Regions from separate parts of the Homo sapiens genome. Here region 2 is linked to region 1. The links come from fine-mapping of genetic effects on gene expression. Tissue or cell type: lung. Region 1 holds a variant in brackets; the other region holds the start of a gene. All regions are shown on one strand. Distances are between the middles of the regions.

Region 1 (5,139 bases):
GGGGCTGGGGGAGGGGCAGAGGGCCATCTGGGCGGAGGACAGCAGAAAAAGGGGAAGGGACTTTCTGGGGAGGGGGCCCCAGCCCTGCCTGGTGGGTGCCCTATTGCCCAGGGTATAAGAAAAAAACACCCCTCCCCACACCCATACAAATCCCTTCAGGCTGGAGGCCAGGACCTCAGGCACCTGCCCCCAAAGCAGCCCCACAGAGCGGCCCAGAGGGTGACGGTGACCAGCTCCACTCACAGCCCCGCCATAACCGCATGCCCAGAGGGTCACCTCCCCCACCTCTCAATGGCACAGCTTACCATCAAGTCATCAGGACCCCTCTGCCTCTCTCCCAGGCAGTGGCTATGACAGTGAGGACTGCGAGGGTCTCCTGGGGACAGAGGCACCACCCAGGGAAGCAGGGCTGCTGCTGCACACCGGGGCCAGTGTGGCCGTGCTGGGGCCCTCACCCTCCTCTGTGGTCAAGATGGAGGCCAACCAGAAGGCCAAGAAGAAGAAGGAGAGGCAGGGGTTGCTAGGTAACCAGGAGGGAGGACAGGGGTTGCTAGGTAACCAGGAGGGAGGGCAGGGATTGCTAGATAACCAGGAGGGAGGGCAGGGGTTGCTGGGTAACCAGGAGGGAGGGCAGGGTTTGCTGGGTAACCAGGAGGGAGGGCAGGGGTTGCTGGGTAACCAGGAGGAAGGGCAGGGGTTGCTGGGTAATCAGGAGGGGGAGGGCAGGGGTTGCTGGGTAACCGGGGGGAGGGCAGGGGTTGCTGGGTAACCAGGAGGGGGAGGGCAGGGGTTGTTGGGTAACCGGGGGGAGGGCAGGGGTTGCTAGGTAACCAGGAGGGAGGGCAGGGGTTGCTGGGTAACCAGGAGGGAGGGCAGGGGTTGCTGGGTAACCGGGGGGAGGGCAGGGGTTGCTGGGTAACCAGGAGGGAGGGCAGGGGTTGCTGGGTAACCAGGAGGGGGAGGGCAGAGGTTGCTGGGTAACCCGGGGGCGGGCAGGGGTTGCTAGGTAACCAGGAGGGAGGACCGGCACAGTCAGCCCAACCAGCCGGGTCTCTAGGATGGGGACCCCTGTGACGGCCTCCTCTCCTTCCCACAGGGGCCTGCCGCCTGTCCAGCCCTGAGAGTGAGGTCAAGATCAAGAGGCGGTCGGTGAAGGCCAAGGTGGGCACCACCCTGGAGCGGGCCCCAGGGCAGAGGCCCCCAGGTGCGCTGGGCAAGAAGAAAGCCAAGGGCAAGGCCAAGGGCAGCCTGCGGGCAGAGCCGGGGGCCACCCCCAGCAGGGACGCCCTCTTCAACCCCTCTCGGGCCTTCGCCTGCCGTGAGGAGGGCAGCCAGCTGGCCAGTGAGCGCCTCAAGAGGGCCACGCGCAAGGGCACAGTGCTGCAGCCAGTGCTGCGGGTGAGGCTGGGCTCTGGGGTGCTGGGCGGAGAGGGTGGGTGCCTGTGAGGAAAGGCCTTCCCCGCCCTCCCCCGCACGCTGGCCCCTGAGCTCTGGGTCAACCTGAGGCTGTCCCACCCTTGACTCAGCCCCTTCTCTGCCTGCCCACGCGCAGCGGAAGAACGGGGCCCTGTCCATCACGCTGGCCACACGCAACGCCAAGGCCATCCTGGGGAAGGGCCGGAAGCTGAGCAAGGTGAAGCACAAGGCCGGCAAGCAGGTAGCAGCCCCCCACTCTGGGAGCCCACTGTGCACCCACCTGCACCCCGCCTGCACCCCACCCAAGCCTGACTCCTCTGGCCCCCAGGGCAAGGGCCGGGCCGTGAGCCGCCTGCTGGAAAGCTTCGCCGTGGAGGAAGACTTTGAGTTCGACGACAACAGCAGCTTCTCGGAAGAGGAGGAGGACGAGGAGGAAGAGGAGGAGGACAGCGGCCCTCTGAGCGCAGAGCAGAGCGCCGCCCTAGGTGAGCAGGGCCAGGAAGGGTGCCAGCCGCCTGGGGAGGGGTGGTGGGTAGGCCGTGCCGGCCGCTGACACCTTGTGCCCACAGCGCGCTCGTGTGCCATCCACAAGGAGGACCTGCGGGACGGGCTGCCCGTGCTCATCCCCAAGGAGGATAGCCTGCTGTACGCGGGCAGCGTCAGGACCCTGCAGCCACCCGACATGTGAGGCCTGGGCATGGTGGGGCAGGGCAGGGGCCTGGAGGGCAACCGAGACCCGTGGCACCTCACATTCCCCAATGCCCCCAGCTATAGCATCGTCATCGAGGGCGAGAGGGGCAACCGGCAGAGGATCTACTCACTGGAGCAGCTGCTGCAGGAAGCGGTGAGGACCGGGCCGGCCCGCCCCGGGGAGGGGCCTGGCTGGCTTGTCCCAGGACAAAGGA[A/G]GGCCTTGGCCTGGGCCGCAGCCACTCCCAGGCCCAGGGACCAGACTCTCAGGCAGCCCTGGGCCAGGCCCCACCTGCTCATGGGTCGTCGCCCGCGTTCCTGCAGGTTCTCGATGTGCGGCCACAGTCCAGCCGGTACCTCCCGCCCGGCACGCGGGTCTGCGCCTACTGGAGTCAGAAGTCTCGATGTCTGTACCCGGGCAACGTGGTCCGGGGTAAGTTGCACCCAAAGCGGGGGCTGGGGCAGGCCCCTCTGAGACCCACAGGCTCATATCTGCCCCCAACAGCCTGGCTTCCGAGGCTGGCGAGGGCAGAACCAGCTCTCTGCTTAGACAGAGTACGACAATAAAATGAGCTCCCCAGGCGCCATGAAAAAGCACAGGGTGTGTGGGGAGGGAGGGTGGGGGCTCCGGCCTCCAGCCAAGCAGAGAGGGCCCAGCAGGAAGGGGCCCTGAGCACTGCTGCTGGGGGTCACAGAGTACGTCAGGGGGCACCAGCTCCCCTGGGCAAAACCTCCTGACTACAGGCAGGGGCATGTAGGTCCCTAGGGCGAAAGGCTCAAGGGTCCCACAGGCAAGTGGCCAGGTGGGCGGGAGGCGCCTCCAGGCGGGACTCGGCTGGGAGGTGGGCACGTGGGCGTCAGCACGTGTGGGGAGGTCTGGTTCTGGGCTGGGTGGGGTGACGGTGGCATCACATGGGAGGCACTGCAGGAGGTGGAGAGGAGGCCCCCGCTCCTGGGCTGCAGGGCGGCTCCACTGTCTGTGTGGTCAGGGAGCAGAACCCCAGAGCCCTCCCCTCACCCTCCCCACCGGCTTTGGCAGCCCCGCCTCCCTGTTTCGGGCGCCTACTGGGGGTTCCAGCTGCAAGCTCAGGTGTGCCGTCCACAGGGGCCTCCGGTGACGAAGATGAGGACCTGGACTCAGTAGTGGTGGAATTTGACGATGGGGATACAGGCCACATCGCCGTCTCCAACGTCAGGCTGCTGCCCCCTGACTTCAAGATCCAGTGTGAGCCTGGGAGCTGCACGGGGCAGGGCCCTGCCTGGGCTCCACTGTGTCCAGACGGGCTCCCAAGGAAGGGTTGGGGTGGCAGTCACCCCACAGCCATGGCACTGAAGCCCTTGGCCCATGCTATCCACAGGCACAGAGCCCTCTCCAGCCCTGCTAGTGTCTAGCAGCTGCCGGAGGACCAAGAAGGTATCCAGTGAGGCACCCCCGCCTAGTGAAGCCGCCACCCCCAGCCTGTCCCCCAAAGCACAGGACGGCCCCGAAGCTTTGAAGACACCTGGGAAAAAATCCATTAGCAAAGACAAAGCTGGTATTTTACCGGACTTCCCAGAATCCGGATCGGGGAAGGCACCCTCTGGGGGCTGGGGGAACCAGGAGGCCCGTGGGGTAGGCAGGGTCCGGGGAGGGGCAGGTGGAGGCAGCTTTGTGGGCCCAGCTGGGGCTGACTCTGCTGGGCTTTTGCCCTCAGGTAAAGCCGAACTCCTAACCTCAGGTGCCAAATCCCCCACGGGGGCCTCCGACCACTTCCTGGGCCGCCGTGGCAGCCCCTTGCTGAGCTGGTCCGCGGTGGCGCAGACCAAGCGGAAGGCGGTGGCAGCGGCCAGCAAGGGGCCGGGGGTGCTGCAGAACCTCTTCCAGCTCAACGGCAGCAGCAAGAAGCTGCGGGCCCGCGAGGCCCTGTTCCCCGTGCACAGCGTGGCCACACCCATATTTGGCAACGGCTTCCGCGCCGACTCCTTCAGCAGCCTGGCCAGCTCCTACGCGCCCTTCGTCGGGGGGACCGGGCCGGGCCTCCCCAGGGGAGCCCACAAGCTGCTGCGGGCTAAGAAGGCCGAGAGGGTGGAGGCCGAGAAGGGTGGGCGGCGGCGGGCGGGCGGTGAGTTCCTGGTCAAGCTGGACCACGAGGGTGTGACCTCCCCCAAGAACAAGACCTGCAAGGCGTTGCTCATGGGGGACAAGGACTTCAGCCCCAAGCTCGGGCGGCCCCTGCCCAGCCCCAGCTATGTGCACCCGGCCCTTGTGGGCAAGGACAAGAAGGGGCGGGCACCCATCCCCCCGCTGCCCATGGGGCTGGCGCTGCGCAAGTACGCGGGCCAGGCAGAGTTCCCGCTGCCCTACGACAGCGACTGCCACAGCTCCTTCTCGGACGAGGACGAGGACGGGCCGGGGCTGGCGGCCGGCGTGCCCTCCCGCTTCCTCGCCCGCCTGTCCGTGTCCTCTTCCTCCTCTGGCTCGTCCACCTCCTCCTCCTCAGGCTCCGTGTCCACCTCCAGCCTCTGCTCCTCCGACAACGAGGACTCGTCCTACAGCTCAGACGACGAGGACCCGGCTCTGCTGCTGCAGACCTGCCTCACCCACCCCGTGCCCACCCTCCTGGCCCAGCCCGAGGCCCTGCGCTCCAAGGGCAGCGGCCCTCACGCGCATGCCCAGCGCTGCTTCCTGTCCAGGGCCACGGTGGCTGGCACCGGTGCGGGCTCAGGCCCCAGCAGCAGCAGCAAATCCAAGCTCAAGCGCAAAGAGGCCCTGAGCTTCTCCAAAGCCAAAGAGCTCTCCCGGAGGCAGCGGCCGCCCTCCGTGGAAAACCGGCCAAAGATCTCAGCCTTCCTGCCCGCCCGGCAGCTCTGGAAGTGGTCGGGGAATCCCACACAGGTAGGTCCAGCGGGAGGCGGGAGGAGCTCCTGGTTCCCAAGGAAACCGGGGCGGGCTCATGCGCCCCTGCTGCCCTTCCCTCTCCTTTTTCATCTTCCTACTTGATTTCAAGTTAAAAAATGTGGAAAACTCAAGGGAAGAACAAAGACCCATCCATGACC
Region 2 (5,139 bases), 64 kb before region 1:
CGGGTGGCCACGGTGTTCTTTTTGTTGCATCCAAGATTTTTCTCGTATACGTATTTTCCTATATTAAAAAATTCAAATGAGGCTTTAAAAATTAACTTGAAAAAGGTTCCTGATCCGGAAACAGGCTCATCGGAGGCAGTGATGGGAACTCGGTTCCTTAGGAGAGTAGGAAATGCGCCGTCTGCGAGGGGCGCCCTGCGTGGACCCGGGGCCTCGGGGCGCGTCCACTTACCCGAGCCAGGAGAGACTGGGCCCCACGGTGTTAGCCCCGCGCTCGGGCTCGCGCGCCGCTTCCAGCTCGCGCCTCCTCCATCCCCGGAGGGCTCCGCGGGTCCCCGGCGACGGGTCCCTGCCCAGGGTCCGGGAACCTTCCCCTCCCCTCCTTTCTCAAGCGCCATTTCTCCGGAGCCGGGCCGGCCGTCCTCGGTGTACGCGGGAAGCGGGCAGCCTCCGCCTGCACCCGCGGGGCCGGGACCCGGAGGCACCCGCTTCCCCGACACACTCGCTGGGGCCGCTGCTCGCTGCTCCAGCCTCCCGAGGCCACGGCAAGAGCCCGGGGGTCGGCGCCACACACCCCCAGCCGGCGACCGCGCCCAGGGACCTAATTCAATCGCCCCCAGCCTAATGAATAGCCGCGCGCTAATCGGATCTCCGCGCGCTTCGGGGATTTACGCTTCCCGGCTCTCCCCCTCGTGCCCCGCGGCCCGCCAGACGTCGCTTCCGAAGGCGCCGGCCTGGGGCCTGGCCAGGGGCTCGGCCGCGGGGGGTCCCGGCCGCCGGAGCCGGGAGACGCCGGAGACGGGAGCCGGGCCCGCGCGACCGCCACTCCCGAGCCAGCCGGGGTGGGCCCCGCGCCTTGTCCTGCGTCCCCGGCCCGGCCCGCGGAGCGCCGGTGCTTACCTGCGAGCCCCGGGCTCTCCGGAGCTCCCCTCCGGGCCGAGCCGCCCGAAGCGGGCGCCGGCGTAGGCCCCGACTCAGGCAGGCGGGAAATCCCGGAGTCCCCGCCCGCGGCCCGCAGCCCCCCACCCCAGGTCGGCGTGGCCTGCGGGGGGGAAGGCCGGCCGGGGCCGGCCGCCCGCTTCCCCTTTCTCTCCAGATTCCTTTGATCCGCGGGCTCTCCGCCGCACCTCGGCTCCCGGGCTGCCCCGGTCGGCCCGCGGGGATCCTGGAAACGGTCCCCAGCTTATCTCCTTTCATCAAGCGGCCTTGGGCCGCCTTGAAACCGCGGAGCCAGTAATTGCTTTTTTCAGGAGGCCCAGTGCGGACTGGACAACAGCCAATCAGCGCCTTGTTTACACTCGGTGATGGACAGTCCACTGGCGGAGTGCCAACCAATCCCAGCGGTCCCGCGGGAGCGGGAGTGGGGGCGGGGAAACAGAGAGACAACAGGCTTTGAGTTTAACTCTTTCGTGTCCCTGCCGGAATGAGACGGTGGAGAATTTCGAATGCGTGTGAATCTGTCAGTTGGCTCCTAGTTTAAATATCCTTTTTTCCCCCAGAGGGGGAGGCAGAGATTCACATGGAGAAAGAGGAGCAAAAATAAATGTATCCATCGCCACTAAGACATCACCTCGACTCCCTGAGAATAAATAGCATTTGGGTGGGAAACCAAATTCTAACAGAAATATTTGTTTGCGGAATATTTTAGAAGTGGTTTGCATCTGATTACGATAAAAATTGTTCAGTGGCTTGCTTTAGTTGGAGTGAGGATTTAGCAGATAGGCAGACAGGGAGCAGCATTGAGAAATACTATACATGGTTTACCACACCATACCCGCTTCCCCCATTACCAAACTGAAAATATTTTCTAAATCTAGGTGTAGATGAAGAAAGGGCAATCCTTGTCTTCTCAATAAATCCCTGATTTTCATTTTAGTAGCTGCTCTGTTGCAAAGTGTGGCAGAGGGAGATAAAATTGAGAGCCAGTAATGTAGACGGCTGGAGACTCAGAACTCACTTCCCAGGGTCTGATCCCCAGGTCATGGGGAGGAGAGAGCCGGACGGGCTATTCAAAGCTTTTGCTGCCCAAGCAGCGGGCGTGCGTGCGTGCATCCGCGAGCTCGGGTCCGGGCAGGCAGCAGCTTCAGAGCGGTAGATGGGCCAGGCAACCTGGGGAGGCCTCTGGGCTTGGAGGTCTGGCCTACCTGCCACCTGCCAGACAGATTCCAGGGAGAAAAAGCAGCTACTTTTAAGGGGTGGTGGTGTTTCTTCCCTTGGCCTTCTGTGCGGCAGAAGCCAAACGTTAGACCTGCTGGATTAAACATATATGTGTGTGTGTGTGTCTGTGTCTGTGTCTACGCCTCCCCCTCCGCCGGGACACGCGCACTCGCTCGCTCCAGCTCCCTCTCCCGCCCTGCGCCACCACATTCCCATTCAGCAGCAATGATCTGCGCAGAGGAGCTGCGCAGTCGCCGGGCTTGAATTAGGCGCCATCGGGCTTGGTAGTAGCCCCGCTGCTTCCTGATTGGCAGTTCCCTGGCCCGGCGCCAGCCTATTGGGAGGCCTGTTTACGCCGAATGAGTGGCACGAGCTCCCGGCCGTGGAGGGCTGCGCGGCCAATCAGCGCGCTGGCTGTTCCGGGCTGAGTGGCACGAGCTTATTAGTATGCAGGGCCCGTGGCTCGCCGCGCCAGGCTGCAGGTTTGAGAGCCGCTCTGGATGGGCTCGCTAGAGTCGTTGTTGTGGAAGCGGTGCATTTACAGTGCAACAGTCAGCACATTGAAAATACCAATAGGAATACAAAACAAAGTCACATTTACTGATTTAATTGTATTGCATTCAGTTGTATCCAGGAAACAGCCTCCAGTAAGTAACTGAAATTGCTTTCATTTTTTTTTTGTTTTTGTATTTTTATTATTATTTTATTTTTTATTCTGGCTTTGGGGTTTTACATTTTTTTTAGCAAAAGAAATTCAGGATTGTGATGTTAAGAAGTATATATCTTCCCTTTTAACAAAATCCGTTAAAATGTTGAGGCTTTTTTTTTTCTTAAAAAATATGGACTATGAGCGATTTTTTTTTCTCTGAAAAATCTTATCGATCGGTTTAAAATTACCCCCGTAATGCATCCTTGCTTTGCTCTGAGCGCTTGTTGTCTCGATCGACACCCAGCATTAAAAACAAATACTCGAAGACAGGACAGGGACCGCCAGGCTGCGTCTGGCGCGAGCCGCGCGGGTGGCACCGGGCGGACAGTAGGCGAAGTCCGGGCGCCGCCAGCGTGCGCCCAGTTCTGGGTGACCCACGAACGAACCCCAACATTCGCTCCCCTACCCTGCTCCCCTCCCCGGAACAGTCCTGGGTTGGCCCTGCCCGGTCGGTCCGCGGCGAGGGGAACTGGCCGGGTCGTGGTACCCACGGCCGCTGCCCTGAGGGGCCTTCCGGGCCGAAGCTAGGGGCCGGGGAGGGGAATGGTCATGGCGAGTTTTTCGGGTCTTCGTTCCCAATTCAGAATTTTTTTTTTCCGGAGAAGTGGGGGTGGAGGAGGGGGACCGAGCAAGGCCGGCGCAGCGGGGCGTTTTCACCGCGCGCGTTCGGGACGGCGCGCGGGGCTCGGGTCACGGCCCGTGTGGCGGGGTCCGCGGGCTGGTTTTCTTCGGGCGCGGGGGTCAGGCGCGACCCCAGTTCTCATGACTCTCCCAGGGAGCGGGTGCGGCTGTTTCGCAGGGAGCGGGTTCTGCGGCGACGGCCGAGCCACTCGCGCCCCAAGGCGCGCCTGGTCCCAGCCCGGCCTGCAGGCCCCACCGCGCCCGCGCTCCCGGAGACGACGCCGGAGGGAGGCAGACGGGCCAGAGTCCTGGTCTCCGGCAGGCGGGCGAGGAGAGAGCGGGTTTTTAGATGCAAAAGCAGGAAACAAAGCAAACTTGTAGAAGCTCCAGATCCTGGAGCGCGCCAGCCACGCCTGGGGCCGCGGCAAGAGGGACCGGCGGCTCCAGGGTCACGCCCTGCCTTCCCGGGAGGGAGCCCTGTGCTCCTAGGTTCAGTTCCTTCCGAAATGCCCTCGTCAGCGATTCTCCGCCCGCCCGGGGCCCTCTGCCCGCCGCCACTTTTCGCTCCATTTCCTCCCTTACCTCAGCCCGACCTGGCGCTGCGGCGCCGTCCTCGCGGTCCTCCGGCGCGGCCTCTCCTGGAGCTGGGCTGGGAGTGGGCCCCGGGCCTCGGCACTCGGCGGGTGGCGGCGTCGCCGCTGCGGGACTGTGGGACTCCCAGCTCGGGCCGTGTGGCCGCCCTTCCTCGCCCCACTTCCTGGCCGCCTCAGGCTCCCCAGGCCCCCGAAGCCCGGCGCGGGCAGACGCGGAGGCGCGGCGCGGCCTCTCCCCGGGAGGAGAGAACACAAAGAAAAGCTCTCTCCAATCCGGTCAGAGCCGTGGCGGCGCAGGCAGGCGACAGTAATCCACCTCCTGTTTGCTTAAAAAGTCGAGCAGGCTGGTGAGAAAGGAACAATCGGGCCTGCGATCCGCCCGCAGGGGGTGGGAGATTAAAATTGTTGCTTCGTAGCCGAGCCCGCGTCCCGAGAATCGCCGGCAGCTCGCGCTTTCTCAACTTTGAAATTTCTTATTGGAGAGAAAAAAAAAAAAAAAAACAACCACAAAACAAAAGCACAGCACACACGACTCCCTGGAGGCCGCCAGGAAGCCTGGCACCCCCGCGTGCGCAGCCCCCGGCCCCTCTCCGGCCTTCGGCGCCTTTGAAGCTGCAGGTTTCTGACCTCCCTCCCTTTCCTTCTTTCCCTTTGTCCCGCCCGGCGCCCTCCGGGGCTCGGGAGGCGCCGGCCGGGGCTGGGGGCCCCCACGTCCCTAGTCCAGCCCGGGCAGCCCCTCCCCTGACCCCTGCGCTCGCAGCCCCCTCGCCAGAGCACTCTCCGGGCCCTGGCGGCCGGGCGCTCGCTTTGCAGGCCGGGATCGGGGCTTGGGAGCCGAGCTATTTGTTAGACCCGGGGAGAGAGCTGGCGATCCCCAGAGGGAAGGGAGCCCCAAACGCCTTTGTATGTAGTTGCCAGACAAAGAGAACTCTTTGTGTAGACCCATTTATTTACAATGCAAAAGCTCTCCGAATAAATATTAAAAAAGCTTATCAGCTGAGCAAATATGTATTCACTTAATACATTATGTTTTCGGTTATAGATTAAATCAAACACAAA

The links. PIP is the estimated chance that this variant, and not a neighbour inherited with it, causes the effect.
Region 2: it holds the start of BAHCC1, and the variant in region 1 is fine-mapped to the expression of BAHCC1 in lung (TOPMed, PIP 0.97).

What each region holds. Positions count from the first base shown.
Region 1 is chr17:81,457,069-81,462,207 of GRCh38, forward strand. It overlaps BAHCC1 (BAH domain and coiled-coil containing 1), which reads left to right. Exons shown (of 28, transcript NM_001377448.1): 17 at 342-524; 18 at 1,097-1,398; 19 at 1,553-1,657; 20 at 1,745-1,901; 21 at 1,986-2,100; 22 at 2,185-2,260; 23 at 2,428-2,536; 24 at 3,209-3,328; 25 at 3,462-3,638; 26 at 3,798-4,978. Among named protein-coding and RNA genes, the nearest start is that of MIR3186, 8.4 kb to the left of the region's middle. RefSeq lists an enhancer at 1-703. The variant A/G (reference allele first, on the strand shown) is at 2,322.
Region 2 is chr17:81,392,832-81,397,970 of GRCh38, forward strand. It overlaps BAHCC1 (BAH domain and coiled-coil containing 1), which reads left to right and starts at 2,626. Exons shown (of 28, transcript NM_001377448.1): 1 at 2,626-2,804. RefSeq lists enhancers at 723-1,280, 3,364-3,972, 3,973-4,581 and a silencer at 1,069-1,338.